Homo sapiens: one gene and its partners. The protein of the gene in region 1 interacts with the protein of each later gene in a biochemical or structural test. Each region holds a gene or a part of one and is shown in the gene's direction. Other genes may lie near its edges.

Region 1 (6,438 bases):
CATGCCACTGCACTTCAACCTGGGAGTCCAAGTGGGACCCCATCTCAAAAACAAAAATAAGCAAATAAATAAAACTTTAAAAGACCTTGAATTTATAAGTTAGTATCTTTCATAACACATGACCATCTTCATTAGTAAAATCACCTATGGAGAAAACTATTGGGTAAATATTCCATAAAAGTTAACAAGTTTTTATTGAGTGTCTACTATGAGCCACACTGCGTTAGGCCAAGATAAATAAGTAGTAAACAGTCCCTCTCTCAGAAACATTTTAATCTAGTTAAGGAGATAAACCTACAGAATGTCCATTATATGACTTCCCATTTCACTTGAGTCTCTCATCAATCGTCTGATTTAGGTTGGTAAACCTTGTACTACTCTTTTTTTTTTTTTTTTTGTGAGTCTGGGTTACAAGTCTTGCTGTGTCACCCAGGCTGGAGTGCAGTGGTGTGATCATGGTTCACTGCAGCCTCAAAATCCTGGGCTCAAGCGATTTTCCCACCTCAGCCTCCCATGTAGCTGGGACTACAGAAATGCGCCAACATGCCTAGCCTCATTTTTCGATTAGTTATTAAAGCTCAAAGTTTAAGCAACTTGTTTAAGGCTACACAGCATGTATGTGGTGGAGTGGGCCCTCACACTCAGGTCTCCAAAAACAGATAACAAAAGGTAAATATGTCTAGAAAGTTGTAGAGCATTAGCCAAATTAATGTTATCATTTGTATTCTTTAACTCCAAACCCGATGGATTCCATTATTATTTCTTGCTTGAGAATAATATAAGATTGAGTCAAATGTTAGACTGGATATTTCAAATTACAAATGCTACAATGGGATTCCCTTTCATTATATATCTATGCAGAACTTTAATAACCACAGTGAATTTGTGTGAACTAAAATAAAACTTTCTTCACTCCTTAGTTCTTCCATCCTCAATGTGACGTTTTCCTTTTCAGTTGATATAGCAGAAATGAGTTTCATCACACACATCTGACCTCCGAATTTAAAAGAAGTTCACAGCACCATTTTTTTTTTACAATGGCATATATATCTTATATTTTTGAAAGACAAGAGCTATATATGAAGAGGGAAGAATGAGAGACAGTTAAATAGCTACCCTGTTTCTGAAACTGACGATAGACAAGGAATCCCTTAACATGTAACAGGAAAGGTTTCAGTGAGATAGTAGGAAGTTACTATATTTTGTAAGGCATTTGAATAATTTACTGAAGGCCCTTACTGATAATTTAGAAAAAGAAATGGAAAAGGTTGTCTTTGTGAGCAGGTTGTAGTAAAAGTTCACCCATCTGGCATTGTAATAATTCCAGTCTTAAGAGTCTATGATTTTTCTCAAATAGGCAATTAAACCATTCAAATAGCTATATTTGTGAGGAAACAAACCACCATTCAAAAAAGCAAATCAAACATTAAAAGGCAGGAACAAACAGATTTACAGTAGATTATTAATATAGCCCCTGACTACTGAGAATGGTATCATAAAAGAGGACCTACTTACCTTTCCTAAATCATCCCTTGATCCCATTATAGCAAAAACTTTAGCCTTGACGTACCATGAAGGCTATCACATGTAACACACGGTAACCTGGGTTGTATCTTACAAAGACCTAGAGAAGAGGCAAAGCTTGAAAGACAAAGAGTAAGCAGAACTAAATTCTTCCTCGAGTGTAGTATGCTTAGAACCTGCTGTAGGCAAAATTGGGAATTTAGCAGGTTGTCCTGGATGTCTTCCCTACTTGGCTGGTGAGGTATACCTCAAACTTTTAGTGCAGAGAGACCTCAAATCTATTATTTCCTTTTCCATGCCCTAATCAAACCCTGTTCTCCAGCAGAACCAAATGTCAGTCACATATACCACATTTAAAATTGCTTAGAATAGATAGGCTGGGCATGTGGTTTATGCCTATAATTCCAGTGCTTTGAGAAGCCGACGTGGAGGATCGCTTGAGGCAAGGAGTTTGAGACCAGCTTGGGCAACATAGCGAAACTCTGTCTGTCCAAAAAATTTTAAAATTAGCTGGGTATAGTGCTGCATGCCTATAGCCCTAGCTACTTGAAAGTCTGCAGAGGAAGGATCTCTTGAGCCCAGGAGTTTGAGGCTGCAGTGAGTTCTGATCATATCACTGCACTCCAGCCTGGGTGACAGAGTAAGACCCTGTCTCTAAAAAAAAACTAATAATAAAATAAAATGCTTGAAGGAGTGTCTTACTCATAATAAATGCTATATATTGGCTATTATTACTTTTATCCTATCACTTGCATTTGTATTTTAAGTCTCTCTAATTTAGATGGAAAGGTTTTGTCTGTATTACTGGAATTTGAAATATCAGTGAACAGATGTTGAAGAATATTTTGGGAGACTCCTGAAATAAGACTTTGTAGGCAACCACCTACTCACCAAGTCTAGCATGCTTTTTCTACTAAGGGCTGCACGCCCAGGCAGAAATTATCAAGCTTTCTTTGAACACCAAAGAAAGGTACACCTACTTGGCCAGCTGTGAAGGATTTTATATGGCTCATATGTGCTCAAACATCTATTTGCTGGATTCTAATATACATGTTAATTCAATCAAGATTGGGGTATCTACCCATGAGGGAGGGGAACTGAAGCCACCCCATGGAGATAATTCTACTCCCTTGGCCCAATCCTCATGCCACCTACCCTACTTCACCACATTTGCTGATTCGACATTTTATTCTTCTGCAATTATTTACTTCCCTGCACAAAAATGGAAATCTAAATACCATGATGGTCTCTGTGACAAAAAGTGAAAGGAAACTAACTGTTAGGAATAAAGGGAGATGAACATGCATTGACAGCTCTAATTATATAGATTGCTTATTTGTTTGGTTGTTTCTTAAGTGTTTCAAAACTCTTTCAGAATAAAAGTACTAGGCAAAAGGGGCATATGCCATACAGATTCAGAAAACTTGCTCAAGAAACACCATCATGTTTTTCCACCTCCCTACCTTCCCAGTGACATGTCACTATGACCTCGGTCTCCTGCTTTGCCCAGACTGCCCTCCACCTCGGAACAAACTGCTAGTACTGAGAGACCTCAAATCTATTATTGAATCCTACTCTCATTAGGCAAAAGAAAAAAGACTTCAGATGAAGAATTATGCAATACAAATCAATTGGGAGCCCATCTATCACTGGTCTTATTCCTGGAGAAGTCTTAGTATAATAGATAGAAGAACTCCACTCTTGAAATATTATTTTCCCTTTAGTCCTCTCTCTTAAACTGGGAAAATTCAAAGTCCCCACCATAATAAAGAAATAAGAGGGTTTTTTTTCTATTTTTCCCATTTCCCTATTCACTGCCCTTCCCTCACATGAGCTTGCTAAAGTTCATAGTCAAAATTCACGTCTGAAATAAAGAGGCTTGCAAAAGAAGCTCATGTAATCCCACTCCTTAAATACCACTAAGACACGTGAGATATTGTTTAGATTGTGGACTCTTACTTTGACATGCCAGCATAGGTAGATGGACAGGCAAGCACATCAGATGTCACTGTTTGGCAGCTGATAAAAGTCAGTGGTGCTATAATACTAAGCACAGAGCCACTAGATTAGTCTGTGAGGGAAGGAGATGCCTCTTCCTTCCCTTCAATAGTGGGTTAAACCCAGCTGGCACCCTCTGGAACTACGGGTAAGTCCCTTCTTTATTCCTACTACACTTTTAGGTCTTGTTTTTGTTTTTTGTCCAAATCAGATGAGTGTATACAAAGATGATTTTCAGATAAAAAGTTTGAAAGCCACAACATTATAATGGTATTACACAAAAATTTAAAGAGAAAGCGACTCATTCATTTCATTGAGACTGGAAGGCATTATACAAATGATAGAAGGAAAGATAGCTGTGTGTCATTATTTTTAAATCACCATTTTTCCTTGAAAAGGGACACTTGATCTGATGTAATTGTGGTGATGTCTTATGAACGCAACATATCCTCTATCAGTCTTCTGTGCAAGTCTATGCTATATTAGAGACAGGAAAAAAATGTTAAGATTTTTTAAAAAGGAGACTGAATAGTACTTTATTTATAAAAATCTTTGAAATTCATTTAACATTATTTGGAATAAAATGACCCTGTCATATAACAGAATCTATTATAGAATTAAATTGTTGAACAGTAACTACAAACATAAAGAAAATACAGGATCACCTGCGTAAATGTCTGCATAAAATTTTGACACATGGATAAAATGAAACTTATGAAATAACATATTTTTAATTGGGCTTTTAAAAATATCACTAATTATTAACAATGTAGGCCAATATCAACATGTACAAGACAGTTGCCATTCTGAAAATATATGTAAAGAAAAAAAGAGAACTGTTTCTGGAAAATATCTACTATTTCATAAGCGGTTTATTCCTTGCTATCTGAAATGAGTCTCAATAATGTACCTGCCCAGAAAGAAATTTAGGAATCAAACTCTGGATTCAATTCTGCAACAGACTGAATAAACCGATAACTACAAAACTACTTGCCTTGAAATAGACTTTTTTTTTAGATCTACTCAAGGCCCTCCTTCAGGATGTTTTTCCCCAACAATTTAAATGCCTAAAGTAGTTCATTTCTAAAATGCATTCTAGTTTAATGTATTTGTGTTCATAAACTTGAAATTAAGGAATATTTAACTTTTTAAGTATTCTTTCTCAATAGCGTCTTTCTCTTGGCTGTTTAGTTGCATTTCTGTTTTTTCCTAAAATTGCTAGTTTTAATTTAACTCTAAACTACATAGGCAACTTTGAAATACTATTTTTTGAAGGTATCCTATTATTTAGGATGAAACTCTTTGGTCTGGAAAAGTTTTATTAACATTTTATCCAAGACAGTAACTAAAATAATTAGAAGACTTCGTTTCAATGATGACAAACAATTTGGTTAATTTTTCAGTTAAAAGTTTGATTTGTCATTATCTCAGTATTGGCTTATACCAGATGAAACAAAATAGGCAAATGTATTTTGAATCAATTTATCTGATATTTTCAATGAAAACAGGATTAGTGTGAAAACAATTTATAGGACTAGTCTTTGTGTGTAATGTCTATATATAGTCCCGCTTAGGTTTACCATACTAATGGAAAAAAAATCAGAGACAAATATAATCCTTCAAGGTTGATTTTCATGGCAAATGTTTCATCTGAGAAAAAATGAGGATGTACTGTAGGAAGGCAGGAGGCCCACTACAGAGCTAAGTAGGAGGAATGGCACCTGTCTTTTCTTGGTAAGGTATAGACTAGTTTCATATGTGTCTTATTTACTTCTATGCTTCCTGTTTGCCATTTGAAAAGAAAAAGTAAAAGAGCTAAAGCAATTTCAAAATTAGTCTGAGATCTCCAAAGGTGTGGCAAAAAAAAGAAAAAAAAGACCAAAAAACAAAATTAGTCTAAAATACATACTAAACAAATAATAAAAAGTAAAACTCTAGATAATTAAAAGAACATCAAGACCAACAACTAGGAAGTATAATCTAAAAATAACAGAATTATAAGGTATGATTCTGTTTAAAAATACATAATAAAAACAGAAAAATGTATAAGTGGCTCTGGAATGCAGCCTGTAACATATGTTCTACACAAACATATACACACAGTCACTCCTTAATTAATATCTAGTTTAGTAATATGGTCAATTTGGAATCAAGGAGAGAAAAAGAAGCAGTGAATTGTAAGGTTAAAAAGCAATCCACTCAGCTGGGTGCGGGGGCTCATACCTGTAACTCCAGCACCAAGGGGGGCTGAGGCGGGAGGATTGCTTGCAGCTAAGAGTTTAAGACTAGTCTAGGCAACATAGTGAAACCCTGTCTCTACTAAAAAAAAAAAAAAAAAAGAAAGAAAGAAAAAAAGAAAAATTAGCCAGGCGTGGTGGCTTATATGTGTAGTCCTTACTCTGGAGGGTGCAGTGGAAGGATCGCTTGTGCCCAGGAGTTGGAGGGGCTACAGTGAGCTATGTTCGCCTGGGCGATTAAGCAAGACACACACACACACACACACACACACACACACACACACAAAAGGAAGGAAGGAAAGAAAGGAAAAGAAAAAGCACATCAGATCTGAAAGATGTCAAATAAACAATGTTATTGTTTAAGCAAATATTGTAACAATTATTTTCTCCTTTTGAAGGAACAATATTCTTCAAGAGAAGGTCACTCTACCAAAGCCAGGAGCACAGTATTCTCAGGATCTCAACAAGGAAGAGCAGACCAAGGTTGCTTCTGATTCCTTACAACCTTCCGTAATTCCAGGCTTGTGGCCCCAAATTCAGGGCCCCACCCTTCCAGGAACAAATCATTATAGTAATAATTTGCCTTCATCTTCCATATACCAACTAAGCATGTTTAACTACGAACGTCCAAAACACTTCATCCAGTCCCAAAACCCATGTGGCTCCAGATTGCAGCCTC
Region 2 (5,963 bases), on another chromosome or scaffold:
TGCACCTCAGTTTCTTCATCTGTGAAATGGATAACAGTGGGACCCCCCTCACTGGTCACTGGGCAAATGAGATGATGGACTGAGTGTGCTTTGCACGGTGCCGGGCTCATAGAAGTTGATGTGAAGAAAGGATGGCAGGTGGACGCGTCTTACAGAAGTGGAGTTAGTGAGAGTGAGGGAGAGGGGTCGAGGAAGGGGAGGAGCTGGAAGGCGGTGTCTGTGGAGGTGCTGCCATGTGCTGGCCCTGCCGGAGGGAGTTTCATTGGCCCCGGTCAAGGCAGGGAGGGCTTCCTGTAAGAGGAGGGCCAGGGGCTGTCTTCCTTGCCTTCAGTGGCATGGAAGTGCCTGACCCATGGCACTGTGCACAAGGACCAGCCTTCTTGGTAAATCACAGGCAGGCTGGCGGCAGCACCTCCTCCTCCTCCCAGGGGCTGGCTGTGGCCCAGCTGGGTGTGGAGTTTCACAGCCAGAGGAGCCAGGCTGGCCCCACATTGAGCTCGGGTCTAGGTTGAGCTTTTCTGGGGCTGGACAGGTTGTCACATTTGCCAAGGGCCAGCACGGAGCAGGGGAAGCGCCCAGGTCAGGGCTTGCGGGGCCTGGCTGTGCACCTTGGGCAGGTCCCGTGGCCTCTCTAAGCCTTGTTTCCTTGCCTGTAAAATGGACTCAGTTCCTGTCTTGCAGAATTGCTGCAAGAATTCAATGAGATCACAAACTTCGGAGCCCAGCCTGACGTCCCATGCCCAAATCGGGTCCCGCCTGCGAGGTGTGGCCCGTGGAGGGGGAGGCAGCGGGTTCCTCTGGGCCTGGGCTGCAGCCCTCATCCCGCCTGCGTTCCACATGAACAGGTCTCTGGGCTTGAGGGTGGCAGATGGCAGCATCCACCCCACGGGGAGCCACAGCTGGACCTGAGGCTTGTGGGGGCACGGTTCACTTGGGGACATGGCTCGGTGGGGCAAAGTTCACTAGGGGACAGGCAAGTTTTCCAGAGGAGGAAAAGCAAAGGAAGCTGCCCTGGGAACTAGTTAGACCCAGGAGGCAGCCCCTTTAGTGGTGGGCGGGGCTGGGGGCTGTTGAGGGGGCCCCTGGAATGGCTCCTCTGTCTCTGAAGAGCATTCATTCGCTCCCTCATTTGCTTCCTGCCCACTGCAGCGGGCCAGGTCCAGCCCAGACGCAGGGGTGCAGGCCACAGGTACACTCCCAAGGGACTAGCTTTGGGAAGGGTACGAGGTGCTGTTGGGCCCAGAAGGAGAGGTGGATCACCACGCTTGCAAAGTCAGGGTAGGCTCCCCAGAGGAGGCGCTGCTGGCCTGGGCCCTGAGGAATGACAGGAAGGGCATATTCCCAGAGGAGGGAACCACATGTGCAAAGGCACAGTGACACTTAGGAGCCTGCACGCGCAGGAAGCAGAGCCGAGGTCCACAGGGGAGAGTGGCAGCACGTGAGGCTGCAGATGTCAATGGGACCAGGACACCCCAGGCCTTGAATGCCCTGCTTAGAGGTTGCCATCTGGTCTGTAGACCATGGTCACCGTTATGGACAGATGGGCACAGCCTGGGACCCATGGCTATCCACTCATGGCTCCTCCATCCCCAGCTCACAGCTGACCACTGGGTGGCAGAGGGGTCTGCTAATTGCAGAGGGCACTAAAAGAAGGGGCAGGGACCTTAGAGATGGAGGAACAGAACTGGGTGTCAGTCCCAGCTCTGCACATTATGTGCTAGAGGGACTGATGCATACAGTTGGGCAGGTTGTGCACTGCACAACTGCAGGGAAGCTGGCCACTCTGATATTTGTCAGTAAGGGCCTGGAGTTACGCAGTGTACAAACACAAGGTATCCCCACAGAGTATCTGGGCCTCAGTGTCGCCATCTGTTCCATGGCAGTTATGACTGTCCAGAGCCAGCACGTGGTCCTCTCTCAGGGTTGGCCACAGTCCCCCAGGACTCCTGGGAGTTCCATCAGGCAGGGCTGTTGGAGCTGGAGCCCTGGCACCCTACTTGTCTCCCCTGCCCTGTTGCGCCCCTTCCTCTCCTGGGATGTGACACCGGACACCTAGCCTCGGGCCTTGATTGCTTTGCTCTGTGTGAGGGTCTCCCTGACTGAAACTTCCAGGGCTTTAGATTCCAGTTTATTGAGGAAAAAAAAAAAAAAAAGGCTAACGGCTGAATCTGGTTGAGACTGACTGTTGACTTCAGAACTTTGGCTCGAGGATGGGGTGGGGGTGGAGGTTGTCAAAAACCCCCAAATAAACAGAGTCTGCTTCCCAGCCGTGGGGCCCACGGTTTTCCTGTGGAAAGAGGCAGTGGGAACCGCGTCCTCCCTTCCCCCTGATTCATGGCTGATTCATCTGCGTGTTGGGAGGAGGAGCTGGGGCACGGGGGCCCCTGCCCCCACCCCACCACCCACCGAGGTCCGCTTAAAGGGACAGGACCTGGTGGGGCCCTGCAGGGGTGCCCCAGGCTCTGGGGTTGCCTAGACCCTGAAATCCAGCAGACCTGGGCCAGCGCCAGGCCTGCCCTCCCTCAGTGATTGATCTTTGCCTCTAAGCCTCAGTCTCCTGGGCCATAAAATGGGCGAGTGCTGCTGCTTTTGTGAGGCTGCTTGGAGACTTGGTTAATCAGCTGACCCACATTCTTTCTTCAGGGTGCTCTTTGCAGACCTACTGTGTGCTGGCTCAGAGAGCATCAAGAAGGGCCCCCTTGAACTTCTCTCCCTTCTCTCTATCTTCCTCCCCTCCTCTCTCCGCCCCTCCTCCCCCTCCATCCCTTCCCTCTGAAATGTCTCAGCGGCTGTCTCACCCTGTGCTGGTTACCACTGGGGTGTGGAAGCGAACCAGATGGTCTCTGTCCCAAAGGAGCCTGGGGTGTGGGGTGGGCACGTGCGGGCTTCTCTTTGGAGACTCTGTGGGAAACAGGCCACCTCCCAGCCCAGCCCCACGGCCCTTCTGTCTCAGGCCTTGCTCTCCCTCCCTGTTTTATTTTCTCTTTGAAAAATGAAAAAAAGTCACTGTAACTTTACCCCAACCACAAATAACCACCATGTAGTAGAATTTTGATGTTTCCTGCAAGGCTTTTACTTAACGAATATTTCACAGAGGGTTTTAAAACAAATCATCCCCTATAAAATCGAGTGTCACCTATTTTAAGTGACCTCTGGGAGACCACACTGGGGAGAAAGTCCTTCCGGTGGAGGCCGCAGTGCTGTGCAGATCTTCAGGCTGCCGCGTCAGAGCTCAGGGGCCCAGCAGCCCAGGCGCTTGAGGGGGTCCAGGGGCTGGGCTTTGGCAAGCAGGGGGTGGACACGTTGGGGTCCAGAGAGCTTTCCGGCCCTGGGTGTTGGAGTGTCTGAGTCCAGGATGGAGACACACAGGAAGGCAGCCTTTTCTAATCACCTGTGGGAGGAGAGGTGCTGCCATTCCTCCTTCTGCTGTGTTCACACTGGGCCCAGGTCCCTGTGTGCCGTGGCTGCCTGCACAGGCAATGCGGGCTCAGCCTGTGGCTTTCCATGTGCTGTGCCCCTGCCCGTGGGCTCTTCCAGGCCTGGGTCAGGGCACCTCTGCACTCACCCACCCCACGCCGGGCTCCTCTCTGCCTCATCCCTGGTGATGCTGTGCTGTCTCTGGTCGGTCACTGACTTGACCCTTGCCCCCAGCTGAACCACTGTGTCTCCAGCAGCTGTCACAGGTGGGCACACAGGAGGCACCCTGCACGAGTGGCTTGAATAAGGCTGTGAGCAGCGGCAGATTCGGTACAACTGGGGCTGCTGCGGGGCTGCCTGGAGGAGGCAGGATTAGGGCCGGGCCCAGGACCAACCAGAGCATCTTGGTAGGGAGAGTAGAGAGAGGTCGTGCAGGGGGAGGTGTAGAGAGGTGGATGATGAGCAGAAACTGGAGTTGGTGGCCCGACAAAGGCCACACGGTAGGAGAGGTAATATGGTCCCACCTGGGGGCTGTGCCCGTGCCCTGGCGCTTCTCCTCAGGCGAGGCACATGGGGCGCCAGCCTCAGGCCCCAGGGCACACAGGGGAGCAGCAGACCGGCTGAGTCCTCCCTCCTGGAGGGAGGAGGGCCTGGGCCTGGGGGTTGCCCTGGGATCCCTCTGGGTCGTGGAAATTGTGGGTCTGAGCGCATCTTGTGAGAGCTCTGAACCAGCTCCAAACCTCACCAGGGAAGCAGGCTTTGTGGCTGGTGTCCTTCCTCTCTACTTGGGTGCTAGAAAATGAACTCAAGTTCCCAGGGGCAGGGAGGAGAAGCAGACAGGCCTGGGCTGCCCACTCGGGCCGCACGGCAGCTTCACCTCACCAAGGGAGCCGCCTGCTTTGTAGGTGTCGAGCAGGGCAGCGCATCCCTCATGGAAGCAAACGTGGGCAGAGAGAGCCCTGGGCCCACAGCAGGCCCTGCCCCTGGGGTGTTTGTTAATGTGACCTCTGAACCTGAGACCCCGCTCTGCCGCAGTGGTTTGATCTATGAGGAGCCTCGCGGTGGCCGGCGTCTCCCAGCCAGGCTCTAGCCACCCCAGACAGGTGGCCTTTGATTCAGGCTGACTGAAGTGGACGAGGGCTGGTGTGGTTGGTGCCTGCGGGCCGGTTGAGAGGCAGACATCGGAAGTCTGGGAGACCCAACACCAGAGCTCGAGCCAACCCCCTAGGTCCCAGCTCAGGCTAAAGGGCTCTTCAGGGCCTTGGGGAGCTGCAGGGCAGAGGTGGGGGCACCCAGGGAAAGGAGGCCTGCGGCCTGCGTTCAGATCCTGGTTCTCCCCTCCCAGCCGTGAGTCCTTGGGCAGGGGGGTTCTTCTTACAGAGCCTCAGTGTCCCCACCTTTAAAATAGAGGAAAAGTTTCCTTCCCCTGGCTGCCCCTGGAGAGTTGGGTGAATGAATTGGGATGTGCCTGGGGATTGTGTTTGCCCTGTGATGATTCCTAGAGCACGGACCGCGGCCCGGGCCCTGCCCCCACAGTGGCATCCACCATGGTACCTTCGTGCCTTTGGACGATCCAGAAAACCAGATTTTCCCTCGGTCCCCATGCCCGGCCACTTCCCAGAGATCAAGAGAAATGTGGGCTGCAAAGCTGGAAAGCTGGACGTTATGGACTGAGCCCTCTTTGCTCCCCATTGCCAAGGTGGCTGGGTGGGTGGGTAGCCCCCCGGGCAGGGACTCGAAGTTTGCAGTCCTCCACACTCAGTTCCCACAGATGTGGTAGGAGGGCATATTCAGTCCCATTTTTCAGATGAGGAGTTGAGGCCCAGAGAACGTAAGTAATCTGTCTGAGGCCACACAGCTAGAAAGCAGCCAGGCCCAGCCGAACCCCTGGTGTGTGCAGCCCCCAGCCCAGTTGCTCATTGCGGGGCTCGGGAGCCACGAGCGAGGCTGAGCAGCATGTGTTCCAGATGGTGGGAACTGGAGAGAGCCCGGCACAGGCCCGTGCAGGGAACCCCGAGGGCTGTGGGCCCCGTGCCACTGCATGCCTCAGGCCTGTGGTCCTGGCAGCCACAGCCCCTACTGCTGACGGCAGCAGGAATCTGAGCCCGGGAAGGGTCCAGGGAAGTTCGTGAACCATCTAGCAAGTCGGGCTGGGGTGTGGCCAAGTTAGACACAGATGTAGGGCCCTGTGGACTCAGAAATTGGCAGCTCTTTTGGCCCAGAGGGGCCACACTGTGTCCGGGCCTGGGTAGCTCAGAAGGGTCACCTGGGGGTCTTCCACTACACCCCCGCCTGGACACTGCTGTAGCCCCAGGGCTCGGAGGGACCAGCTGGAGCCCATGAGGAGAGGGCCAGTTCTCTCCTGTAAGGGTATTGCTGTAGCATGAGGGAACAGACAAGGCCCAGGGGGACTAACCCGAGATCCAGCCCTGGCCTCACTCCCGTGTGGCTCACGGCAATATCCTAACCTCTCTCTGAGCCTCCTGCCCAGCCTAGCAGGGTCCAGTGAGGGGGGTGAGGAAGCCCAGCACGTGGAAGCCTTTTTA
Region 3 (5,963 bases), on another chromosome or scaffold:
ATCTCAGACGGCAAATAGATGAACAACAAAAATTACTTGAAAAATACAAAGAACGATTAAATAAGTGCATATCAATGAGCAAGAAACTTCTTATTGAAAAGGTAGGCTAAAAGTTGAGTAAATTTTCGCTTTCCCTTCATTAGCCCCTTTTGCTTTGTATGCTTTTATAAATTAATGAATACAATTGAGTGATGATTTTTTTTCTCCTTTTCAGAGTACACAAGAAAAGCTGTCAAGCAGAGAGAAGAGTATGCAAGATCGATTACGCCTCGGGCACTTTACAACAGTTAGACATGGCGCTTCATTTACTGAACAATGGACAGATGGTTTTGCATTTCAGAATCTTGTGAAGTTAGTCATTCTTAACATTTAAAAGTTTTTAGTATTCGTTTGGGTTTTCATTACTTTAAAAGATTATAGATTTGTAATTATGCTCTCCAGTTCCTCGCTACTCTGAAATCATAGAATTTAGTACCTTTGAAAGGGATATGAAACCAAGAGTATTACAGTTTTAGCTTAGTAATTTCTTGATTAATTAGCAGTCATCTATAGAATGTAATATATTATTCTAATTCTGACTTTCCGAGATATTAATTGAACCTTTAGCTTTACAGATGATGTTTTGAGAGGGAAATTGTTGAAAATTTAATTTTCACTGGAAGATTTGTGTGTGTGTTTATTTCCTAGGATTTTCCTACTTAGTTTTTTCCCATTCCCCAATCCTTACATGTTAATGTTCAGCACTTGCCTGCTCTCTATTCCTAAGGGAAAAAACTTCTCTTTTGCCTCAGATATAATAACTGATTTATCAGTTAAACTGAACATGTGGCTTTAGCGTTTCTGAGGTAAACTCTATTTATTATTTATTTATTTTAATTTCAACTTTTATTTTAGTTTCAGGGAATATATATGCAGGTTGTTACAGGGGTATATTGCTTGATACTGAGGTTCGGGGTACAATTGAACCCACCACTCAGGTAGTGAGCATAGTACCCAGTAGTTTTTCAATCCTTGCCCCTGTCTCTGCCTCCTTCATCTTTGTAGCCCCCAGTTTCTATCATTCTCATCTTTATGTCCATGTGTCTCCAATGTTTAGCTCCCACTTATACATGAGAACATGCGGTGTTTGGTTTTCTGTTACTTTTCAGATCAAACTTTTAAACAGAGGAATTATAGTTACCATATTTTCTTGAGTTCAGATGGTGGTAGAAAAGGATTTATTGGCTGTTTATGTGTTAAGGAGTGCTAAATATGCTACTCCGTTTTTGGTGGAAAATTTTTTTAAACCTGAAAATGGGGAGTAATGCCAGCATGAACATCAGCTTTTCCAGAGTATCCAGTTATTTGAAATAGAGGCAGAACTTACTTTCACATGGTATCACACCAACATTGCTGTTCAAACACTGCCTCCTAGGACTTGCCACAGAATGGCCTTCTCTCTCAGCAGATTTATTCAACTTTTCTTCAACATATCTGTGCTAGTTATACCACAGTGAAACAAAGGATAATGTCCTTGTGATATTAGAGAGTTTGGGTTTCAATTCTGCAGATAATGGGACTTGTTAAAGGTTTACATATAGTGTACGTGATCGGAATGATATCTACAGTGATAGTTGTAGAATAATAACTGATGGTAATGTGAAAATATTATTAGAGGATGAATGTTATTGGTAGTTAAGATGGAGGGGTATCCAGATGAAAGGTGATTAAAGCATGAACTAACATATCAACAGTAAAGTGGAAAGCAGGAGAAGATAATTTTTTAGTGTTTATGAGCAAGAGGCTCTGCTACTAAACCCAGACCGGCAATTGTCCTGCAATGAATAAAAGAGACAGTTATATAATTAATATGAATGTTCTGAAATATAAATTCTACTAGTAGTTCCAATTTCTCCTCTTAACTGTCAGAAAAGAGGCCACAGGTGCAGTGGCTCACGCCTGTAATCCCAGCACTTTGGGAGGCCGAGTTGGGAGGATCACCTGAGGTTGAGAGTTTGATACCAACCTGGCCAGCAGGGTGAAACCCTGTCTCTACTGAAAATACAAAAATTAGCCAGGCATGGTGGTGGGCGCCTGTAATCCCAGCTACTCGGGAGGCTGAGGCACGAGAATTGCTTGAACCTGGGAGGTGGAGGCTGCAGTGAGCCGAGATCATGCCACTGCACTCCAGCCTGGGCGACAGAGTGAGAGTCTGTCTCAAAAAATAATGTCAAAAAAGAAAATAATTACTTGTATGTCCTGACTTTCACTAATAAGCATTTATTGAGGACCTACTGTGTGTATATCAAGCCGTTTATAATTGGTGATATAATCCAGAGTGGTTAGAAGATGAGAAGAGAAATAAATAAAAGTAATAATATTAATCTCTAAACTGTATAGTCATCCCTGAGTAATCAGCTATTAATATCTATTCCAGTAATTCTTTACTTTCCATTAATATTTTAATCATTAGGATTATTATTGCTTATTTGCATTTATACCATCTTGATTGTGCCCTAAAATAGCCTTAAGATTTACTTATTAAAAATTGAAATTTATTCCTGCTTCTAAATGAAAACCGGATTAAAGTCTTGTTCTCACTTTGCTATTCTTGAGATTTTTCTCTACCCTTTCAATCTTCTACCTAGATTCTTCTTGATTTTTTTCACTCCTATCATATTCTGCTACTTTATCACTAAAACCATAGGGAAGGGGATGTGTGTAAGGTCAATTCTGCATTAGCAAAGTAGGAGCCCTTTAGTTGATGTCAGTGGTTGGGGAGAGGAGGGCATGAAATATTTGACTTGCTCTAAGTATTGTAACCATGTAGGATTTGAAAATTTTTTATTGGCATAGTGAGGTGACCTGAAAGAGAACATGGTTACTGTTAGAATAAGCTTAAGGTGTTGTATGATAAGTTGGTTTTAAAAAGCTTCACTGTTAACTACTTTATGCTCTGCTCAAACTGCTAAAATATCTAATCTACATTTTAATAATAGACATGGTATCTATTCGTTTTTAGAATTAGGGAGCTATTTGCAAAATTGTTTCAGTTTCTTGAATGGGAAGCATTGATTTTATTTTTGTTACTTTCCCATTTTTCAGAGCCATGCTAATTTTTCTTGCTATTTTCTTGTCTTTTTCCCCTTAAATTATCAAAAAAATTTTTCTCATAAATTTCTTATATTAAGGTTAATTTGTCTCATTTCAAAACACCAACTTCCCATTACCAATTTTTTTTAACAAAAGTAGATTTAGAAAATAACTCTCTTCACATTAAATTCATATTTGCCTTTTGTAAATTTGTTTGCAAATACTGTGGTGAGATGCATGTGTAACATATACCCCATACTTTAATAGTTTGGGGTATTGTTTTATCTCATTTCATTCAAGAAACATTTACTGAGCAAAGGTAAGTGATGATCACTACACTAGGTACTAGGGATACAACAGTATAAATACTGTATAAATAGACACCATCTGTGTTCTTAGGGAGTGATGTCATCTAACCGGACACTTTCTGATAAAGTATCTATAGGAATAATATTTATTAGAAAGAGTGAGGTGGGGAGATAGAAGATCCCATGAAATTATATATGGCAACACATCTTTCCCTAATCTAGGGGTTTAGAGAATACCTCACTTAAAAAAATTCTTTCAAATGAGACCTGAAGGATAAGTACAAATTGGTTCACAAGAGTGGAACCAAAAGGTTACGAATGTATATTTTATGGTTTTTCATGTTTTTTATGCATTTTTTCCAAGTTTAGCCTTGAAAAGTAATGGAAGGTTAATATGGTTTTATTTGTTTATTTTTACACAGGCAACAAGAATGGGTGAATCAGCAAAGGGAAGATATTGAAAGGCAAAGGAAACTTCTAGCCAAACGCAAACCTCCCACAGCTAATAATTCTCAGGCACCCTCTACCAATTCTGAACCAAAACAAAGGAAAAACAAAGCAGTCAATGGAGCAGAGAATGATCCCTTTGTTAGACCAAATTTACCACAACTGTAAGCCTCCATTTAAAATTTTTCTTTTTTAAAATTGTTGCCAGTGAGCGTGAATGTTACTAATGGATGTTATTTATAATTAATACTTAGATAGCAAAAATGATTAAGACCAGGAAGGAAGGCAGTATTGAAAATTTAGCTCTAAATTAATAGCCCCAAATATCTGAATTCTACCGTTTTAAGCAGAGATTTAACAATTCTCTTTTAAAACAGAGACCTAGGTAGCTAAGAGGTTACCAGAATTCACCCTTCTGTGTCTGAATCAGTTAGGAATCAATTAAAAGTTTTGGATTATTCTAATTCAACGTTTCCATTCACATTCCTTTGTCTGAGAGAATGAAGTAATGTAACTACCATTTATATGTTTTCTCAGCCTGTGAAAGCAGTTCATTAGTGGGTTATAGGTATTGTTTTTCCCTTTCTGCTTTTCTTTGTTTTCTGGATTTTCTTTGTTAATGAATTATTCTTTATAATTTAAAGGACAAAGACATTTTTTAAAAGAAAATTTGGAAAATAGGACAAGAATAATAATATAGACCATGATCCCATTTCACAGAGAACACCATTGTTAAAATTTCAATATACAGATGTATCCAAACTTACATAAATTTTCTGTTCTAGAAGAACTTACGTAAACTCACGTGAGTAGAAAATACATAGACCGGGCACGGTGGCTCATGCCTGTAATCCCAGCACTTTGGGAGGCCAAAGTGGGTGGATCACGTGAGGTCAGTAAATTCTCAGAGAGAAACCCCGTCTCTACTGAAAATACAAAAATTAGCCGGGCATGGTGTCAGGCACTTGTAATTCCGGCTACGCAGGAGGCTGAGGCAGGAGAATTGCTTGAACTTGAGAGGCGGAGGTTGCAGTGAGCCAAGATCGTGCCATTGCACTTTAGCCTGGGGGACAAGAGTGAGACTTTCTCAAAAAAAAAAAAAAAAAAAAGAGAAAATACATGTACCCTCTAATGTCTTGTATGTCATGTATTCTTTTCTCCTCTATTGAAAGATTGTCTGTCATCCATGCTTTGAATCCCATCCACACCTGTATCAGGAACCTCTTCTGTTGATACCTCCTTTGTGCTCTGCTTGTTACTTCCCTTCCAAAAACATGTAAGCAAAACCATTAAAAAACTCTCCCTCAATTACAAATCCCTTTAGTCTCTATATTCTGTATGTTCTCTTCATAACTAGGCTTCTTCAAAGAGTTGCCTGTCCTCGTAGTCTCTTCTGCCTTGTCTTCCAGTTGCCCTTTCTTAACTGAAATTTTTCTTAAGATTATCTTCCTGATGCTAAATGCTGTAACATTTGGGTCTTTAACTTACGTAGCAGCACTGAATATTGTTGACTTATTTTTTTCCAAAAAGACTATTTTAGTTTTGAAGATACTGAAGTTTCCATTTTAACTCATCCGGCTGCATCTTCTCAGTCTCTTTCTATGGGCATCATTTACTTACCAATCTGTAAAATGTAGATGACTTTTAGGGATATGTCCTAGGCCGTCACATTTCTCACTCTGCGTATTCTCCTTGAGTAGTATCTACTCTTAGGGTTTCGGTTACCGTATACATCCTGCTGACATCAAAATTACCATCTCCAGCCCACTTTTCTCTTGAGTATCGGATACTTCTGTCTCAGTCTTGAATATCACATCCTGCTTAGTTGCTATCAGTACTTAAATGTCTCACAGGAACTTCTAATGCAGCCTGTTCAAAACTATATTTACTAAAAACAAATAAAACCTTGTATTTACTGTTATCTTTCCGATTCAGTCTGTCTTTACACACACATACTTTGCCCCTTTTCTGTGTTCTCTTAGTGAGTGGCACTACCATCCTCTCACATGTAAGAATTCTAGTTGTCACCTTTAACATTTTAAGTACAGATTTTATTTATTTTTATTTTTTATTGTTTTGAAGAGATGGAGTCTCCCCATGTTGTCCAGGCTTGTCTTGAACTCCTGGGCTCAAGCT
Region 4 (5,963 bases), on another chromosome or scaffold:
TGATCTGCTGGCCTCAGCCTCTCAAAGTGCTGGGATTACAGGCATGAGCCACCATGCCCAGCCCACCATGACTTTTTAATGAACAAGTTACTACATAGTTCCTGAACTTAAATTAGCCCTCTTTATTAATATTTAATATGGACTATTTAGAAATGCCACTGCATGACAGGGAAGTAGAAAAAATATATTTTTCTAAATTGTACTAAAAAATAATATACTACAGAGACAGTTTTAAAATAAAATATGTGAACGAAATTTCAAGATTTTTCAAATTCTGAAACATACACGTTCTGTTTTTGTCTCGAGTACTCGTAATTTTCAGTCATGAGCTAAAATACACACACATGCACACACACACACATGCACACTCTCCTTATTTTCCAAAGCATGAAGGCTTAAAGTAAACAGGCATGTGTGCAATGCACACCTTTCCTCTCTGTTACCACAGGCACAGAGGGAGGTGGTGGCCAGAGCCGACAGGGAGTGACAGGCTGTGGTTGTAATGAAGGCCACCAGCCATCATTTATGGATGAAAGCTTCCTTGGTTAAATTTTGTACGTTCCAATGTATTTATTCTTTAAAAACTGGACAGCTTATTAAAAAGGCGATTTACACATTTTGACTTTCTCCGGCATTGAAGCTTTGACGAGCAATTAAGAATTCTCAGTTTTTAGGGTCAAATTTTATAGTTACTGGAATCCCACAGCACAAGGGAAGCAGAAGGTTGGAAGAGTGGTCATTGGTAGCGGATGTAGCAGGGGTCTCGGTTTGGGGCTTTAATGACAACTGCTAATGCTCTGTGATTGGTTTCCGCTGAAACAGATGATTTGAAAAAGGGTCAAATCTGTTGAGGTGTGTTTTGTGACAGGAAGATTCCCAGCGGTGTGGGCGGGATTCGGAGGCCTTTCTGCATGTGGACAGGAAGACCGCAGCGAAGGCAGGCAGTGTGACCGGGCACATGAGAGCTGGGCTGTGGGGCTTTTCCCGGCAGGAGCCGCAGGGTGCAGGGTTGAGGCTGGCACTGAGCCCACAGTCAAGAGCGCAGGAAGAACGGCTTAAACAGACTGGCTGTCCTCCACAGGAGGTGGAGACCTGAGCACGTAACTTCAATTCCTTAATGTCCTAATACGTTAAGACATGTGCTTTGAACGTTATTGGAATAAATTTATTTCTCTTAGCCAAAAACTGAATTGATTCACTTTCTAGAGTATAAGTCTATTTTCAGTTTTCTCTTTGGAATTGAAAAATTCTCTAAGGGCACGAGGAAACCCTGGGAGGAGGGTAGACTTTTCAAAAGTGCCGACACAGTCAGTGCTTGACTTCCCCATGGATGGCGAGTGTCTGGGAGCTGGTTTGGTTTCTTCTCGGTGGACCCCGGGGTGCCAAGCGCTCTGCCTTCACTTGGTGTGGCTTTGCTTACAGCAGCTTCCTACAATCTCATGTGTGTCCATCAAAGAGCATGTTAGCTCCTGAGCAGCAGATGCTCTGTGAATTTTAGCTCCGATAATGACCTTGGCCACGTGAACACCATCCTAAAAGGCCTGAGCGGCCACCATGAGGCGGGTAGAGAGGCCGGGTTCCAACTGTGAGCCACGGAGGAAACTCGGAGGAAACCGTGAAACTCGGAGGAAACAAAGGCCCAGAAATGCCCTGGAAGAAGCGGCTCCTGATCTTGCATCCAGACGTGCCTGAAAGCAGATTGCGTGACTTACACTAGTTACCCGGCTTCTATAACAATAAACCAAACAGTGAACCAACAGTGAGCCACGCTGTGAACTTTCTTTCCCTGTTTCATTAACATGTTAGTATCTGCCATCAGCATTCATGTCAACAACTTTCACAGTTTCTGTTCATTTGATACTTAATTTTTATTGCTTTCTTTGATAAATTACAGACTAATAATGTTTATATGGTACTTACGGGCTTACAAATAACTTTGTTTCAGTTATCCCATTTGTTCCTCTCAGTATTCCTATTTTGTGGTACGGTTGGCATTTGAAGCCCATCGTACGGACAAGGAAAGCCCAGCTCAGAGGTGAGATGTCCAGCCTGCCTCATGAAGCTATGGCATAAACGTGCCTGGACTGCAGACGCCTTCCTTTTTATTGCAGGACACAGCCGTCTGCCCCTCGTGCGAGTCCGTGAGCCTCTGGGGCTCCACGTGCATTCACTGCCTCAGGGGGCAAAGCTGATGATCTTTCTCAAGACCACAGCATCGATAAAGGGTCCTTCATGGAGCCTGGGTCCACTGTCTCTACTCACATCTTATTCCTGCTACATCAATGATGGTGTAAACCTCCAAAGGCAGAGTTAGGACTCTGGACTCAGATTCCTTCTCACCACTGACTTTACGAGGATGACCACAGTACTGACCCTGCTGAGAGCACCCAGTGTTCAGTCATCCATGCATTTGGTGCATACGTCACCAACCCTGAGAATCAGGAAATGCCAACTCCCTGAGAAGACACTGTCGTTAGTACATGTGAGCTGGAGCCAAGCGGTGACCATGCGTGTCCTTCACACGCCCTCACGCGCAACCAGGGACCCCCAATTCATGAGAGGGGGGACCCCTGCCCCCATGCTGCCCTGAGGTCCCTGCAGGCCCCACCAGGCACCCCCGATTCATGAGAGGGGGCGCCCCTACCCCACTCTGCCCTGAGGTCCCTACAGGCCCCACCAGGCACCCCCGATTCATGAGAGGGGGCGCCCCTACCCCATGCTGCCCTGAGGTCCCTGCAGGCCCCACCAGGCACACCCTATTCATGAGAGGGGGGCCCCTGCCCCACGCTGCCCTGAGGTCCCTGCAGGCCCCACCAGGCACCCCCGATTCATGAGAGGGGGGACCCCTGCCCCACGCTGCCCTGAGGTCCCTGCAGGCCCCACCAGGCACCCCCGATTCATGAGAGGGGGCGCCCCTACCCCATGCTGCCCTGAGGTCCCTGCAGGCCCCACCAGGCACACCCTATTCATGAGAGGGGGGCCCCTGCCCCACGCTGCCCTGAGGTCCCTGCAGGCCCCACCAGGCACCCCCGATTCATGAGAGGGGGGACCCCTGCCCCACGCTGCCCTGAGGTCCCTGCAGGCCCCACGAGGCACCCCCGATTCATGAGAGGAGGCACCCTTACCCCCACGCTGCCCCAGGATCCCTGCAGGCCCCCTAGTCTAGCTGGATCCAGGAAAAGCTGCCCCTGGCCCACACTGGCACCACCCCCTGTTCCTCCCCAGGCCTTTGGAGAAGAACAGGCTCTTCTGAAAGAATAAAAGCGTAGAGCTCTGAGATGGGGAAAATTGGAGGATGGGACACAGGGAACTTTTGAGGATTCTTCTAAAGTCTGTTTTTGGTCTGAGAGTTGGTTGGCCAAGAGTATGGAATACATGACTGTTTATCGAGGTGTTCACTGGTGAGTTGTGTGCGTGTGTGTGTGTCCTGTAGCTCAATGTAAAATATGCCTAAAAATAATAGTCTCTGACCTCTTCATGTGGGGAGCCAGGGAACTTGGCTGTCGTCCGCAATAATCTACTTGACCCAGCTGTTTATTAACCACTAGATTAAGGTCAGCCTTGCTTTGTATATGTCGCACCAGTTAACATGAACAAATGAGAAATGATGGCAATGAACCCATTTTTAGTTAGCACTTACTTTAATAAGAATTAATGGATACTTGGACAAAAGTGTAGATATAAGTCTGTCAATATTTAATAAGCACCTAATTCATGTGGAATATTACACAATCTGCCTAAAATAGTCTCCCAGCATTTTGAAGTGTAAAAATTAATTTATTATAGCAGACATCCAGGACCAAAGGCCCCACGGGAAGCGATGGATCCTGAGGGACAGGTGCTCCCCAGGAGGACCAGGAAAGGTGATCAGAAAGGGCTGTGCGAAGGTGGAGGCAGAGCTGCCTGCCCTCCCCATGCAGGGGACCTGCTTCCTCTGGCTTCTTCCCCTCTCCGGCTCCACACAGTCACCTCCACCTTCACCTCTGTCCTCCTGCCAAGTCAAGAGTACCTTGTTCATCGCCATCAGGCAGAATATCAGCCACAAGTAGATAAACCTCACATTCTGATTCAAGAAACACTAATTAGAATGAGAATGACCCCTAGACAGGGATGTCAGCTTTTTAAAAGAATGACTTTTAAAATAGCAAACTCTGGTCTGATAGATTTGGCTCAAAAATATGCAGAACTGTGTTATACCATCTCTGTTTCCTACCCCTTCTCCTACACACCCCACCTTGCCTAAGAAAGCAGCGATGACACTCACATTTGAAAGATTATTAGAACATAGCTTAGTGATGACTTATTTTTTTAAAAAAATATGTTTGCTTTGTTCTGTATTTTATCTTCAGTTAGCTGCTTGAGACCATGGAGGTATTATGAGTCATATACATTAATATGCATTGTTTTCTTTTTTTCTTTTTTTTTTCAGATAGGGTCTCACTCTGTTGCCCAGGCTGGAGTGCAGTGGTGTGATCTCGGCTCACTGCAACCTCTGCCTCCTGGGTTCAGGAGATTCTCCTGCCGTAGCCTTCCGAGTAGCTGGAGCTACAGGTGTGTGCCACCATGCCCGGCTAATTTTTGTATTTTTCGTAGAGATGGGACTTCACCATGTTGGCCAGGCTGATTTCGAACTCCTGACCTCAAGTGATCCACCTACCTCAGTCTTCCAACGTCCTGTGATTATAGGCGTGAGCCACTGCGCCCGGCCAATATGCACTATTTTCTTAAGAAAAAGTCTATAAAAGTGTACATGACATTTCTCTTTTGCAAATAGGCATATGTAAAGTATGTTTTTAAAAAATATTGCATGACAGGGAAGAACTACTGAATTTGAGACGGTTGGTTGTTAATACTTTGCCATGATTGAGTTCTCAGCAAGTGGAGTGTCATGGAGCAGTGGAAGGGGACTATGTTCTCCCAAAGCTCCCCTGTCAATCAGAAGCACACAGGTGGTCCTAGAGAAGGGTGGATGCTGAGTGCAGAGGGTGCTGGGCTGCTCCAGCCTCACCCCATCAGGAGCTTTAAGTGCTCCATCCAAAGGGTCTTCGAAAGAATAACCAGTAAGAATCCTGCAGACAATAACTCCAGAATTTCAGGAGCACTGTTCTTTCCTTGACAAAGTGCTTTTCATGTTTCATCGAATTAGAAGTAGCTCCTGTTACCAAGGGAATTCGGGGTTTGGTCTTGGTCTCAGCGAGCCTGCTGACTGTACTGAGGCGCCTGAGGAAGTGGTGCAGTTGCCCCATGTCCTGGGTCCAGGGTAGAGCCCTGCTGAGCATCAGCCTCGAAACTCACGGAGGCAGGCCCGCTCCCGTCGCTGCGGGGCCTCCTGGACAGCTCTCTCCCTCCCCAGGTGGAATGCGTTCGAGGTGCTCGCCCTGGACGGAGTCAGCTCTGGGATCCTCCGGTTTTACACAGCCCAGGATGGCACCGACTGGCTGCGGGCGGTCTCAGCCAACATCAGGGAGCTGACACTTCAGAACGTGAGCACACGGTGTTTCTGAGTCTCTGCTGATGCTCATTCGTGCATGAAAAATAATGGAGACATCATGTTTCTGATGATTTATGATTAACCCGAAACAGAAAATCATGTACTTGTTTCAATGTGTCAAATCTATGTCTAAAAACATTAAAAATGAAGCCATCAGAATGTTTCCAAATCAAAGAGTAAGGCAATGTCTAACAGCTGAGAATTTCCCATCTGGTTTTGTCTTCCTCCTCCCCTCTGTCTGCCTCTGTCTCTCTCCCTCCCTTCCTCTCTCTTTCTCTCCACACACATATACAGAAATAGTTATATGTCATAATTTTATATTTTACCCAAATGCATTGATACAGTGTGACATTTTGAGTTGGGGAAACCTAATTGAGTTAAAAGTATAATTCTCCCAAACATTATGAAGATTTAGAAAAAGGCATAATTGAGCAAAAACATTACTTCTCAAATTTGTACTGCAGTCCCCCAG
Region 5 (5,963 bases), on another chromosome or scaffold:
CAAATCATTTGTAAACTTATGTTGGTCGAATATACCAGGCGAAGTAACATTTTTAGTAATGCGGTATATAGTTTCCGTATATAGGTATAGCAACGGACCTCAAGTAATATTGCTTATTGTAGGCATCTACTGTGCAATGATAGGGTAGTGGGTAGTAGGCCTGATTATAGTTATGTCTTCTGAGGCCTTGTTAACAGTAAACAAAGAACTTTTGTGGGTTGTGTCATTTTGAGGTCATTTGTACCTTAAATCTATCATATATTTAAATAGGTGTTTAAATGCGTGTTTGCACGATGTGTTACTCTTTAAGGTCCATGTTTCCTTCATTCTGGACTACGGTTACATAATACACAAATGGTAACACTTTTAATTGCTCAATTTTGTCCTATGGAGACTGCACACCATCTTTATGAAAGAGGTGTGTATGTGTCCTTACTGATGCCACCGAATTCTTGACATCTGGAATGTCAAAATGAATTATTTTGCATTCTAGGTTAAATCAACACTGGAAAAATTAAGGTGTTTAAGCAAGTCTAGTAGCTCTATATAAGACAGAATCTTTTTTTTTCTTTAGGCCAACTGTTGGATTTTTAAAAATGAATCATATTTTTAAACATTTGAGGGAGCAGTTTGCTTCTGAGTCTCATTTTAGGCTGAAATTGTTCCAGAGCACTACATAGCCTGCTTCTCTCTTTCTCTCCCCACTCCCCCTCTTTTTAGCTTGAGATAACCAAGAAGACATAACTGTGACTCTATGTGTTATCTTTTTAAAAAGTTGTTTTAAAATTGAAGTTGCTTGTTTGAATATTTACTATCCCTTTACATGCTTTACTACTTAATAATGGATTAGCAGAATAAAACAGATATTTTAATTAAATGTCTTTCATATTTTTGACATCTGAGCTTTGTAAAAATGGAGTAGCATCATATTATTGCTGAGAGAGTTACAAATAATACAGGATTAGTGCTAGTCAAAGGCTAATTGTAAAAAAACAGCCAGAAAATAAAATTAAAAGAGGTAAGAGGACGCATTTATACTTTTGACATCACTCTAATATAAATTACCTATTGCTAGGTGACTTTTGAAAAAGAGTATCTTGTAAAATTCACATTAGGTATATAATAGTTAATAATTTTTCCTTCCAGAGTGATTCACTTGATGAGTGACTAGATTTTTTTTTTTTAAATCAGAACTCTACTTCAGGTAAGTATAGTTAACCATGTAAGTGATGTGCTGATGTTTATTTCAGGAAGAATGAACACTTACCCATTTGATAAATACTGAACTGTTTGGGAATATGTCAGTTATTCCTTAAAACTTAGGCGGAGAAAAATTATGCTAGTTTTGTTTTAACTGTAGGTTCTTTAGAAAAGTAGTCTTCACATTTATAAATATAAGAGCAGATAAGCACAAGAGATCTCTTTCCTGATATGGTGCTAGTATTGAATTAAAGATTTTATTTTTTTGTTGTAGGGACCAGTTTTGTTTAGTCTTCCTGTTCAGTCTCACAGAAGCTGCAATGATTTTCCTCCTTTTCTGTTACTTGTATCTGACCACTGGGGGGAGACTTTACAATTGGGCTTGACCATATTCCTTCTTTACATACATTGGCTGCTAATCCTGGGCACTTTGTCAAACTGCTGGGTAGTGTGCTGAGGAGGATGCACTCTGAAGCAAGTCTCAATCAAGGTGTTTAATGACTTTTCTTTCTTTAACTCACAGCATGCTTACAAAGTATCATTCTTTATAGACTGTGTTATTAACAGTCTACTGTTAAGTGGTCTAAGTATGCCTCTAACATAATGAAAGATAAGATTCCTGAATACATTATAGCTTTCAAAGATCCGACTTTACTTGCATTAATCTTAGAAGCAGTGTAGGTTTAATTGCTTGCTTAGAGTACACAGATATTAGTTGTCTGGAAGGATCTGGAAAGATCATCACTCTTCTGTGAAGTGTATCTATATCCAAACCCTTTAAACAAATTGGTCTCCTCTTATAAAAAGCTTTTGGAGGAGAAGATATTGAAGCATCCCATGTAGCTAATTTTAGTGTTCATTTCACCGCAGAGGGGAAGTTCTTCCTTTATCATAGTCATATAGATAAGATTAAAGCCCACAACTTTGTTAACCATTAAGCTGTGACCATTATTACCAGGTGTAATAAAGTCAAAAGCCTGGTTTCTACTTTTTCTTTTCTGACAGTATTTAACCTTGTTAATGTCCAATTCAATAATAATGAACTCAGTAAACAGAGGCTGCTACGTTTATAGTAGTTTAGAAAGAACTTAAGTTTTATGACCTTCCTTAATTATGATAGACTAATTCAAAGACCTTTCTATAATCTTTATCATAGTAAGTATATTCACAGAGTAATGAACAGAACAAAATTAGTTTCTATTTTTCCTTCATCCTAGGTTATTTTCCTTCTTTCCTTTAAGATGACTTTGCTTTCATCCGAAAATTCTTTTTTCCTTTTTTCCTTTTTTTTTTTTTTTAATATAGTGTACTAGAAGAGATACTTTCTGCTTAGGAATATATTCATCTCTGGCTAACTTTAGGATTGTGTTAAGTACTTGGGAATGGAAGTTTCTAAAAGCCTATCTGTCAGAGTTATCACTGATACAAGGCAAAATGAGAATTAAAGACAATATAATGAATATTTCATAAAGCTCAAGTTATTTTCAGATCCTTTCTACTGCTTGCTAGTTTTGTACATGATTTAATCCCTCCTTCACCAATTTACATCTTTTCCTCTTAAATCTATCATTTCTTTACCCTCTTCCTCCACTTTTTGCTATATTTCATCTACATTGCCCTTCATTTTGTTCCTCATCAATGCCATGGCTTGCTCCTAACTTAGGGCTTTTGCACTATGTTCACTCTGTTGGGAACTCTTCCTAAATCATTACATGAGTGACTACTTTTCATCATTTCATGTTGTAGTTCAAATATCATCTTTTCAGACAAGCATTGCTACCTAACCATCCTTCCAGAATGACACTAGCCTCATCCCCCTCAATCCCATTACCTTTTTTACTTAAAAATTTCTTCAAACCATTTATCAGTATCTGAAATTATGTTTTTATATTATTTTATAATCTCCATACTCACTAGAATATAAGCCCCGTGATATCAATGATCTTGTCTCTTTTTGTTTTTGTTTTTGAGATAGAATCTCACTCGGTCACCCCAGGCTGGAGTGCAGTGGTGTGTGTGATCACGGCTCACTGCAGCCTGGAACTCCTAGGCTCAAGTGATCCTCCCACCTCAGCCTCCTGGTAGCTAGGACTATAGGCAACAACTACCATGCCGAGCTAATTAAAAAAAAAAAATTCTGTAGAAATGGAGTCTTGCTGTGTGTGTTGCCCAGGCTGCTCTCAAACTCCTGATCTCAAGGGATTCTCTCGCCTCAGTGCCTCAAAGCACTGGGATCATAAGCATGAACCACCACACCCTGCTGATCTTGTCTCTTTTGATTAACACTATATTTCAAGGACTTAGACCTGTTCCTGGCACATAGCTGTCATTAAATAAATCATCCTTTTAAAAAATCTGAGGTCATGTTCTTTCTGAGGTTTCGGTGTTCAAATGCTCCTTTATAAAATGATAGTAGTATGGTAAACAGGCCTCTTTTGGCCATAAGTAATAGAAATCCATTCTAGTTGTTATAAAGGGAATTTATCGTTCAAATGCAGCCAATGTCCAGTGGAATGCAAGGACTGGGACTCCAGTGCCTGCAGGGCACATCATATCGTTTCTCTCTTCTTCTCTGTGCGTTTGCTTCATTCCTTCTCTTGCTGCAGAGGACCACTTCTAGTCCTCTTAGTGGAAAATATGGCCACCAGTAGCTTCTGAGTTTTCATGATACCAGCCTGGGAAACTGGAGAAAGGTTCATCTAGTTCTTCCCTGTTCAATAAACTATATCTCATTATTAGAACTTGGTTGTACTTGCTGTAACCACATGTAATGGGATTAAACAGACAATCCAAGTAGGTGCCCCTGTGATAATTAATGTTCATACTTATTCATCTGCTGCAAAACACTCGTCTCTCCTCTTTTTAAATTTGATCTTGAAATCTGAAGTATCTGAAAAGCACTCTTCCTGGAGATATAGAAAAGAAATGTGATATCTTTCATGGGCATGATTTGCAGTTTGATTGAGGAAGATAAAATATATACAAAAAGGAAGTAAAATAAAAATAGCATGATAATGGAGGAACTGGTAGAAATATTTGCAATTTGTATGATAAATAAGAGTCTAACTTCCTTTATATAAAGTACCTACTAACCAATTAGGAAAAGACCAACCATCAAGTGGGCAAAGATCATGAACAGAGTAATTCTCAGAAAAGGAAATGCAAGTGTTTTGTAAGCATCTGTAAAGGTATTCAACCTCACACATAATACAAATATTATAAATAAAAACTATGAGATACTGTTTCACCTACTGACAGATGGAAAATGTTTGATAATACTTTTGAAGAGGCTATTAGTTAACAGGGGCTTTCACATTGTTGGTGGAAACACAAATCAAAATCTGATGTGGTTGAAATTTCTGAAGAGCATTAAGGTAAATAGAAAAGGCTGGAAATATGCCTTAATTGATACAGATGTTTGTGAAAGGGTAAAAAGTTAATGCACAACTTATTTGAACACTAACTTGCATTGCTTTGTTTTTGGCTAAAGTCATAAACAAACTGAAACAGCAGGCTTCCTCCCCCAAAAAGAGATACCTTTTGAGTGGTATTTAGTTACCCCTTTCCATCTTCTCCATTCCCCTTTCTTCTACCCCAGTACTGGTAAAGTTGTTTATAAATCACCGAGATTTTCCGATACTTTGTATCCTTCACACAGCCCAGCACTTTGTTACCTACTTAGTAGCACTAAGTAAAGATTTAATTGAAGGAGCTTAGCTTATCACCTTTTTATAGACCCAGTTCATAATTCTTATGTTTTTGGAAGAAATCTTTTATAAAAAGTGATTTTCAATTTCATTTGATAAATCTACTTAGAATATTTATTAGAATAGGCAATAGAGCAATTTTTTATAAATCTTGGTTTATTGTATAGCATATTAATGGAACTTTTTCATAGTTGCTTTGTTCTGTAGGATATTATTAGATATTAGTTGGGTAGGATTAATATTTTTAAAAGATAGAATAGGGCAGCTGGAGATATGTGGGACTTTTAAAGAAAAATGTATGAGAAAGTGTGGGGAAAATGATTCTCTGAGCAGACTGGGGGCCATATGCTTAGGAAAGGAAAAGTGAAAGGTGAGGGATTCGTTTAGAGAAATTCTGTGGTGGAACTCAGAGGGGTACATGTTGGGAGAAGTTTTAACTTAGGAAAATACTAAGCTGATTTACTTAAATGCATATTTCAAGGATAAATACTTTATATTTTGTTCTGTAGGTCATTTTTACCATGAAGTGACTCTGGCAGGGATTCTTTACCTAAGTGGGCATCAGAATCCTTTGGAGCTATCCTACGCTAAAGGATTCTAATTTAGTAGGTCTGGTATGGGGCAGGAGCATGTTTATATTGTTAAAATCCCCAGGAGCCACCATTTGAGTGTAAAATAATACATCCTGTGGAATATTCCATTTTAATAATGAAATCATTCAACAAAGCTTTTGAGGTTGTATATAATTTAGGTAACTCTAATGCTGGAACTTGGTCTCTCACCAGGTCAATACTTCTGCACATACCTCATTGATCCCCATTGCTTTACTCTCTTGCATACTCTTCCCTCCTCTGCCTTCTTGTTTCTTTTCTACTAATGAATATTCAGGCATGGTTCTCCAAGGAAGCCATCATTAGGTGGCCTCATCCATAATTTATCTTTTCAGTACAGAACAAATTATAACACAGTGCTTATACAACTGGCAAGTACACTCATCACATGAGTAGATGATTTATGTGTTTTCGTTCACATGAGCCTTGAACAAATATACCCAGT

What was found.
Region 2: the proteins of MYOT (region 1) and HTRA3 interact in a test that uses a peptide from one of them, tested with the Homo sapiens proteins (one large-scale study listed by IntAct).
Region 3: the proteins of MYOT (region 1) and TLK1 form a complex in vitro, tested with the Homo sapiens proteins (one large-scale study listed by BioGRID).
Region 4: the proteins of MYOT (region 1) and SNTG2 interact in a test that uses a peptide from one of them, tested with the Homo sapiens proteins (one large-scale study listed by IntAct).
Region 5: the proteins of MYOT (region 1) and PALS2 interact in a test that uses a peptide from one of them, tested with the Homo sapiens proteins (one large-scale study listed by IntAct).

What each region holds. Positions count from the first base shown.
Region 1 is NC_000005.10:137,864,284-137,870,721, forward strand, and holds the start of MYOT (myotilin), read left to right. Parts: upstream 1-3,576; 5' UTR 3,577-3,670; intron 3,671-6,157; 5' UTR 6,158-6,368; coding exon 6,369-6,438. UniProt on the Homo sapiens protein: Component of a complex of multiple actin cross-linking proteins. Involved in the control of myofibril assembly and stability at the Z lines in muscle cells.
Region 2 is NC_000004.12:8,276,254-8,282,216, forward strand, and holds part of HTRA3 (serine protease HTRA3 isoform 1 precursor), read left to right. Parts: intron 1-5,963. UniProt on the Homo sapiens protein: Serine protease that cleaves beta-casein/CSN2 as well as several extracellular matrix (ECM) proteoglycans such as decorin/DCN, biglycan/BGN and fibronectin/FN1.
Region 3 is NC_000002.12:171,044,202-171,050,164, reverse strand, and holds part of TLK1 (serine/threonine-protein kinase tousled-like 1), read left to right. Parts: coding exon 1-101; intron 102-214; coding exon 215-351; intron 352-3,802; coding exon 3,803-3,991; intron 3,992-5,963. UniProt on the Homo sapiens protein: Rapidly and transiently inhibited by phosphorylation following the generation of DNA double-stranded breaks during S-phase. This is cell cycle checkpoint and ATM-pathway dependent and appears to regulate processes involved in chromatin assembly.
Region 4 is NC_000002.12:1,232,535-1,238,497, forward strand, and holds part of SNTG2 (gamma-2-syntrophin), read left to right. Parts: intron 1-5,353; coding exon 5,354-5,483; intron 5,484-5,963. UniProt on the Homo sapiens protein: Adapter protein that binds to and probably organizes the subcellular localization of a variety of proteins. May link various receptors to the actin cytoskeleton and the dystrophin glycoprotein complex.
Region 5 is NC_000007.14:24,574,789-24,580,751, forward strand, and holds part of PALS2 (protein PALS2), read left to right. Parts: intron 1-5,963.